Homo sapiens: one gene and its partner. The protein of the gene in region 2 purifies or fractionates together with the protein of the main gene of each other region. This does not show direct contact. Each region holds a gene or a part of one and is shown on either strand. Other genes may lie near its edges. The genes, in order: TFAP2B and MEGF10.

The links.
Region 1: the proteins of MEGF10 (region 2) and TFAP2B purify together in Homo sapiens (affinity purification with mass spectrometry, with the first as the bait; one study listed by BioGRID). This does not show direct contact.

What each region holds. Positions count from the first base shown.
Region 1 is NC_000006.12:50,817,220-50,821,824, forward strand, and holds the start of TFAP2B (transcription factor AP-2-beta), read left to right. Parts: upstream 1-1,672; coding exon 1,673-1,753; exon of another isoform or gene 1,754-1,807; intron 1,808-4,212; coding exon of another isoform or gene 4,213-4,258; intron 4,259-4,605.
Region 2 is NC_000005.10:127,293,590-127,297,405, forward strand, and holds part of MEGF10 (multiple epidermal growth factor-like domains protein 10 isoform a precursor), read left to right. Parts: intron 1-3,816. UniProt on the Homo sapiens protein: Membrane receptor involved in phagocytosis by macrophages and astrocytes of apoptotic cells. Receptor for C1q, an eat-me signal, that binds phosphatidylserine expressed on the surface of apoptotic cells. Cooperates with ABCA1 within the process of engulfment.

The DNA of each region.
Region 1 (4,605 bases), on a different chromosome or scaffold from region 2:
AAAAGGAAAGACGAAACATAAAAAATTCAACCGGAAATAAGGGGTTTATTTCTGAAGTTCCTTCTGAAGCACCTTCTTTGTGTTCTTTTCCTTTGACTTATCTTTAAAAATTAAATTAAAAATCTGCAGAATTGTTTATTCTGCAGTTCATGAAGCTTCTCCTTGGTTTTGATTGAATCGACGTCCAACAAGGTTGTCCGGAGCCCTGTACTCAAACAGCGTCCATCCCTGTTCGCGCAGAGCTGCACACAGCAGTCCTGGATTTAAAGACAATCACCCTTTGCAGATTCACTCTCACCAGGCTTAATAACTTCCACCCCAAATTGCCCCATCCCTCCTCGGTCCCTCCTGGCATTTCTTTTCTGTCCCAGGCGCAGAGATCCTCTTCTGGGCGTCTGTTCCGGCTATGAGAAGCTCTCCGCACCCTGAAAGGGAGTAGAAAAACAGAGGGGATGGGAAAGGGGGAACAGGGGAACAGATGAGTATTCATTTCATGATAAAATTCAGAATCCCTGCGCCTTAAATGGTGCCCATTTTCTAAGTCTGGTTAATATTGTTCTTGTTGCTGATGATGTTTTCCTTTTTAAAAACTATATGAATCATCTTATTAAGAAAAATTATACAAAAAAAAGAAGAAACTCCACATGCACTAAAATATTTTTCACTATCTCTTTGAAGACATTCTGCTTAAACCTTTTCAAAGATTCGGGTGGCCCTTTCTTGACTCTCCATGATTAAAACCACTTACAAGTCATACACAACAGATGCAAATATAAAATGTCCTTGGCCTCTGCAAAAAAGGCTCAAAATTAACCTTGTCTGAACGTGTGCGTACGTTGCTTCCAACATCTGAAAAAAACTTGATAAAATGGAGACTCCAGCCAAGAGGAATGGTGCATGGAATCCGTTGAAAATGCATACAAACAACACCTAAAATAACAAGCAGCACAAACTGAGGTGTATTTAAGTTTCCAAAGGTTTTAGGTAAAATGACCAGAAAATATTAGAAATGGTCATCAACGGTGGCTAGCTTTTTTGTTCTATGGTGACAGAGATAAAGTTAAAAAAAAAAAAGTTGTGTAGCCATCAACACAGAGATAGTCCTTAAAATCCCCCATATCCAGCCTTTCAAAATACTCTCTTCCGGAACATACATGAATAGGAGGGAGCTTTTGTGTTTAAAAATCTTGGTAAGTGTCCCCCTTTAAAATCTACATAGAAAATAGGGGACTGATGGCCCCTGGTTTCTCATTATGAATTGCAAAGACTTCAGTTAGTGGCTACAATGATGTGTCATTTTCGATATAGAAGTTATAAAATGTATATATTATATTAATCACCCTGAACAACTCTTTGTTAAATGCACATTTGGAGTCTGCAGACTGTGTGACCCAGAGGTGCTTATATAACTATATGTGGGTGTCTGGGTGTAAATACGGGTTTATGATTTTTATAGTATATATGTCTGTGGGTTGCATCTAACTCCTGTGTGTGCAATAATGTTTTTTCTCTTTGCTGAGGCTTACTTGTCCAGCCTATTGTTTGAGACAACAGATATAAGTTGCGATGGGAGAGGAGCGTCGGATTTGGTGTGTATCCCCCATTTCCAATTATAGATGGATCATTACAGACAGCGGAGTCCTGAGAAGCCAGACATCTGCTCCTCACATGAATGCACTCACCTCCTAGAGACCAGGCTGCCATCATGCTCTGGAAGCTTGTGGAGAATGTCAAGTACGAAGATATCTATGAGGTGAGTCGACACCCCCAGATGCACCTTAGAGCTTTGCAGATAGAGAATTTGAGCTTCTTGATACCCCAAATGATATATATTTTTAAGCTATTTACTCGTAGATTTCCGGTCGGTTTTCTCAGCTTTTTTTAACTTTTAGAAAAGCTGGCTAGGGAAGACTTCGCTGCTCTGAAAAGGGACTTTAAGGCTGAAATCTGACAACTTTAATTTAGGAATGTTTTTATTTATTTTATTTTTCTTTCCCTTTTCCTCGCCTCCCCCCACCCCACCCCACCCTTTTAAGCTCTGATGGGGAATGTGGTGCTACTGAATGTGGGCACGCTCTCAGAGAAAATCGAGATTCTGATAAAGTCAGGGGCTTTTCTCGTTTTAAGTGTGGAAGAGAATTGGGTTTTCAAGCCTCATTTGTAACAGACTCGGGCTTTTAATTTTTATTTTCAATAAAATTTCTGAAATTGATAACAAATGGTTCCAAGTAGAGGACAGAGAATTAGCGGGAAAGAAGTAGATGGCTGGAGATATGGATGGATAGAGCAAAATAGAAGTCGTAGCAGTTTATTAGTTTCTGTTTTCTTGTGTTTTGCTTCCTTGAGGGTCACTGCGTCCGAACAGAAATCGCAGCCGCCTCCTGTGTGGGCATCTTTCACGGAAATTTCTGCCCACGTTCAATGCGTACGGGTCTCTAGCACTGAGGCTAGCTCAACTCTTCGGGGCAGGAGAAGTTGCGCCCAGCCAGGAGGACGCCAGCCGCCTCCGGGGCCCGGACCGCGCTCGCCAAAGCCCTTTTCCGGCTCGGGCGAGGGCTGACGCGGCCAGACGGCTCCGCTACTCGCGGGCGAGGCGGACTAGGCGGACGAGGCGGCCGAGGCGGGCGAGGTGGGAGAGGCGGGCGAGGTGGGAGAGGCGGCCGAGGCGGGCGAGGCGCGGGGCGCGCGGCGGGCCAGGCTGGGGACCGGGAAGCCCGCGGAGCCTCGCTTTTAAGCGGAATGGTCTGGGACAGCCCCAGGTGGTTGCCAGGGGAAGGGAGGAAGGGAAGGTTCTGCTGAGACGTCGAGGTTGGAAATAAAAACTTCGGAAAGGCGAAGCGGATTTAGAAAAGGAGGGAAGTCGAGGCGGGCGAAGCGGGCCATGGAGATTGCTAAGAGGAAAAGTTGGAGAGAAAAGGAAGGAAGAGAAGCAGACTCCCGGGTGGCGGGCGCGGGCCGCTAGGTCAGACGAAAGGTGGAGGGATGCAGAGGCTCCCCAAAGAGCCGAGAAAGACACGCGACCCCTCCGGATCGGGACAGCTCCTGAAAGCCCGGCGCAGAGCCGCCTCGAAGATCCTAAGAGTGGGCGACTCACAGGCGCGGCCGGCAAGCTCCTGGGGGACTCGGGCTCGGACGAGCGCCCACAGGCAGCGCCTGGCGCCCACACCTCCTGCCCCCCCCCGAATCCTAATGTTGGGGTGTGTGTATGTGTGGAGGTATGTAGGAGAGAGGAGGAGGAGATAAGAGAGGAGAGGGAGAAAAGCAGGAGAGAGCGCGAGAGAGCAGAGAGGAGAGAGATTGGTCTTGTTGCTGAATGATGCTTGGGGTTTTCCTTTTCTCTTTGTGGTTGTGTATCGACTGTAACGAAGAGCCGCGCCTACGCGCCTGGTGGGGATTGTTTCGGTTCGGCCTCCTTTTCTTTCCTTAACAGGCGGGATAATGGTAAAGTCCAAGGCGCTAGAACTGTCCTAAAGAATATTAGCGCCCAAAGTGGGCATGACATTAGCAAGCACGGGGCCATGGTGAAAACAGCTCAAGCTATATGCATGCAGAGGCATTTCAGTGGGTTCTAAAAAGTAACCAGGGTAACATTCGTTCTTTACAGAAAGTAAAGTAGCTAAATGGAAAAGGAAGGAGGGAGAGAAGAAAGGAGGGAGGGAGAGAGGAAGAGGGAGGGGTGGAGTGGAAGGGAGGGAAGAGAGAAGAGAAAAGAGGGGAGGGAGAGAGAGAAAGAGAAATAAACAGGGAGAGAGAGGGAATATTACAGGTGGTCCTATCTGCCTAAATTTTCTGCTCAAAAAACAGAATCCGCAGCTCGGTGGAAGGAGCCTATTTAAGTCTGGACTAAGGTTGAACTTTAACAGAAATGGCAGTCAGGCCAGTTGAACGGGTTCCTGAAACATCCAAAAAGGTTTTCTGTTGCCCCTGGCTTTGCCTGGAAAGGATAAGTTTAGTGTATTTGAAGATTGATGGCGTATGTTTTAAATTGAGGTAAAAATCGCAAACTATGTGAGCACTAAACAGGAAAAGGCTGCACAGGAATGAAAAGCCTCCATCTCGCTTCTGTCCTTTAACAAATGAGCATAATCTTCCACATTTAGCAAAAGTCTGCAAAAGTCACTGTAAATAACCAGGCCCACCAATTTGCCTTTCTCTCGCCTCCAAATGATGAAGCAACCCTTTTTATTTTGTTTTTGTAATCCTCACACAAAGCACCCAAGGCGACCAAGTCCTCCGGATTAGGGAAGTCTCTCTCCAGGTAGGAGGACACCTCCATTCTATACAACCTCCCAGCACTGTTCTCCCTCACTGCCTTATCCAAAGGAGCAGGGGCTGCTTTACTCGTGTCCCCGGCACAGTTAATTGAAGTTCTGCCTCTTTCCTGCTAAACTTTTTCCCCAGTCTGCCTTTGCCAGCCCCCTCGTCTGATTACATCTAGTAATTCTCCACTGAATGAACGTCATTTACAATAGTAGGGGAGCTCTGCGCTCGCTGCTGCTTCACGCTCCATTTGTCCTCTATTCTCCCTTTAAAGTACTCGTGTAATATTAATAGTCATGAATATCAATTATTATGAGGCGGTGTAGGCAAGCGGAGGGAGGAAGG
Region 2 (3,816 bases):
ATGCTCATTTAGCAGCAGTGAATTTACCTTCTTTGTGATTGTCTGCTTGGTTTAATAGTGTATTTCTAAAATGCAAATCTGATCATGTTATTCCCTTGTTTAAAAATCTTTGGCAGCTCTCTGGATGGTGAATGTCAGTGTTACCTGGGTGCATGTTGAAAATATAGATTCCAGGGCTTCACCCCAGAAGTAAGGGCCAGTAATCTGCATTTTGAGATCTCCAGGTGAACCTGGTAAAGCTGACGTCAGATCACATTTGGAGAAACACTGGCTTACAGCATAAAGTCTCACCTCCTTACCGCTATACACAAGACCACCTTTGCAGCACTTCTCAGGGTTATTTTCTGCTTCTCTGGTCCCCAGCTCTCCAGCTCCCACTGATCTTGATCTTGTTACTATCTCAAGAATACGCTGTGCACTTTCACTCTTCCATGACCCAGCTGTATATGCTGTTCCTTCCTCTGAAAATGTCTTTGACCCTCTTTCCTGTCTAACCAACCACTTACCACCCATTCATCTTTTAAGACACTATTCAAATCCCTTTGAAGACTTTCCCTCTGAAGTTTTTCCCAATTATCTCATAAACTTAGCGATATCTCATGCGAGTTCCCATTCTTGTGGATAGATTTAATATAGCATAATCACATTGTATCAGCCATATTTATTATCTGAATGTTTATCCCTAACAGATTGGTGAGTTCATCATTCCTTATTGTAAGCTCTTATACAAGTGGCTGGCCCATAGTAGTTATGGAATAAATGCCTAGAGAATGTTGGAGAAAAGTAAATGGATGAATGATAGTCAACATTTTCTTAGCAGACAAAGTGGTTGGGACAGTATTGTATACATATGGAGGGTGTGGAAAAGCCAGTTGGGAATTTCCAGTTTGGCTAGACATAGCCTAGGAAGTTAATAACTTCAAGTGGGGCTGGGCATGGTGCCTCACGCCTGTAATCCCAGCACTTTGTGAGGCTGAGGTGGGAAGATCACTTGAGGCCAGGGATCCTAGACCAGCCTGGCCAAAATGGCGAAATCCTGTCTCTACTAAAAATACCAGAATTAGCCGTGAGTGGTAGCACACACCTGTAATCCCAACTACTTGGGAGGCTGAGGCACAAGAATCACTTGAACTTGGGAGGCAGAGGTTGCAGTGAGCTGAGATCGCGACACTGCACTCCAGCCTGGGTGACAGAGTGAGACTCTGTCTCAAATAATAATAATAATAATAATAATAATAATAATAATAAATAACTTGGAGTAGAAAAAGGACAAGACAGAATATCCTAAGAGGACTTATGAAACACCAAATGCCACTGAATTAATGTTACATGTTGAACATTATTGCAGGCAGTATAATGAAGAGCTGAGCTTATCCTTTAGGATGGTTTTGGTTTGGTTTTTGGAATGACGTGTCAGAGCACTGGAAAGGAAGTGCCAATGCCAATAAAAACCAACTTTGCTCTGTGCTTTTCCATTTATAAAACACTTCTGCTTCTGTTTTTGTATTTGATCAGAAACATGGTGACTGGTTCAATACTGTCTTTCCTTCTTTCCTGAAAGGACACATTCCTGAAAATAGGTCTGAAGATTGTATAAAAGCCTACATATTATAGGGGATTCTGGCCATAGAAAGCCAAATATATTATGAAATCTCTAATTATATCTTGCTATTTAGACACAGCATTCAGTGTATACTCCATTTTCTAATTTTTCTTTCTTTAAACTTTACACAATTTTGGTTATTTTCTCCTCATTTCAATAACAGTTGACCAGCTCAAGTTCAATAAATGTCTGATTCAGATGAAAAGATTTGCCATTTTTGGCATGTCTAATAACTTCTACCTTTGTCTTACTTAGTTTATGAGACAAACACTTCTCATAATTACTATTAGGCTTTTAATTTTCCCATTTCCCATTCACTTTTTTGTAATAATGAAAATATGCAGTAACATTTGAATAAGTGAATGAATAATTCTCTGGGTAATGACAAGGATGGTGATTCTGCAAAAATTGAACTATTGGCTTAGGGCAGCTGCACCATAAAATAAACAACATAAAAAGTTCATTCATTAGCTGGCATCTGAGTGTCATCATGACACAGGGCAGGGAGGTAGTAGCATCAATAGATGTAGTACAAATATCCACATTGATGGACTTCAAACGAAGCAATATTGAGGACTGCCTTTACTCTCAGTTTCTCAAGGGTGTGTACCCAGTATCTGGTTTTAATAATTAGTTTAGTTTTAAGAATTAATACAAGATTCACTGGGTTCTGTTGATTTGTCTTCTTTTAAAATTATGTTTCTGAAATGAACTTTTTCTAGCTTAGCATAAGCCTGTATCATTTTCTGCCAACCTTTGGAAGTCTTTTAACTGCTCTCCTAATCTCTTTATTCAGTCATTCATTCATTCTTCATATCTGAATGTCCTGAAATTTTTAATTTACCTTTTGTCTCTCTTTACCATTTTGCATTATTGTTCACCATGATCATTCTAACTCTTTTTAAATATAGTTATTGCAGAGGACTAATTTAGAGCATTTAGTAAAAGGATTTCTCATACTATGAGGGAAAAAGAAGGTACAAACCAATGTTATTTTACTTTATAGAACTTTATTTGTGGAATGGCAAGTCACTGTGTGGATGTTATTTGATAATGCAAACTCTGTGGCATTAGCCAATCTGGAAAGTGTGAATGTGATAATACATCCTGTTATTATGGTTGTTCATTTCTAGTGATTTCCTCTCTTATTTCATTTCTAGTGATTTATACTCCTAGATAAAGAAACTATGTAAAGCATTTAAGCACCTCAATTTCCTACTTAGAGGGCAATAAATTGTACCCCTTCCCACTTCTAAGACAAAGAAAACAGTATTTCAGTATGGAAAACCTCATCTTGATAGGTACATGTGCAGGATATTAGCATCTGTTAAAAACATCTTATCTTTGGGAACATCCTAGAGGATGACTAAGTGCCTTGTCATTAATGTCTCATCTGACCCAGATGAGCTGTACAGATTTGGCTGTTTCTCAACATAGCCACAGGTGGTGGTTCCCAAGATGGATCTTTTGAATACCTTCTGCTGAAGAATTTTGGCTTTCTTAAAAAATAATTTTTGATGGCAAATTGAAAACTAAAACACACAAATTTAACTTGTTCCTCACAGAGTGAAATAGAACTATGAAATTTTTGCTTGGTGGCACAGAAGACTAATCCTACAATCAAAACAAAAAAATTTAAATATCCACCCCTATTGACATCTTGAGAAAAGTACTTGAGTTTGGATGAAGAATTGATAAAAAATATGTGACTTGGTTCTTTAAAAAAGTAATAGGTTGGAGAGTTACTTTTTGTTCCACCAGTTTTTTTTGTTTTGTTTTGTTTTGTTTTTTGAAGTGGAGTTTCATTCTTGTTGCCCAGGCTGGAGTGCAATGGCGCAATCTCAACTCACTGCAACCTCCGCCTCTGGGGTTCAAGTGATCCTCCTGCCTCAGCATCCCGAGTAGCTGGGATTACAGGCATGTGTCAACATATCTGACTAATTTTTGTATTTTTAGTAGAGACGAGGTTTTGCCATATTGGCCAGGCTGGTCTCGAACTCCTGACCTCAAGTGATCTGCCTGCCTCAGCCTCTCAAAGTACTGGAATTACAGGCATGAGCCACTGCACCTGGCTGTTTATCAGATATTTATTAGCTGTGTAGGGCATAGGGGAAAATACCATGTGTAATTACCAAGAAGCTCTTGCCTTCGAGGAAAAAACAGACTAAAAAAGTACACATTGCATGCCCATATAAAATATCTCATGTAACCCA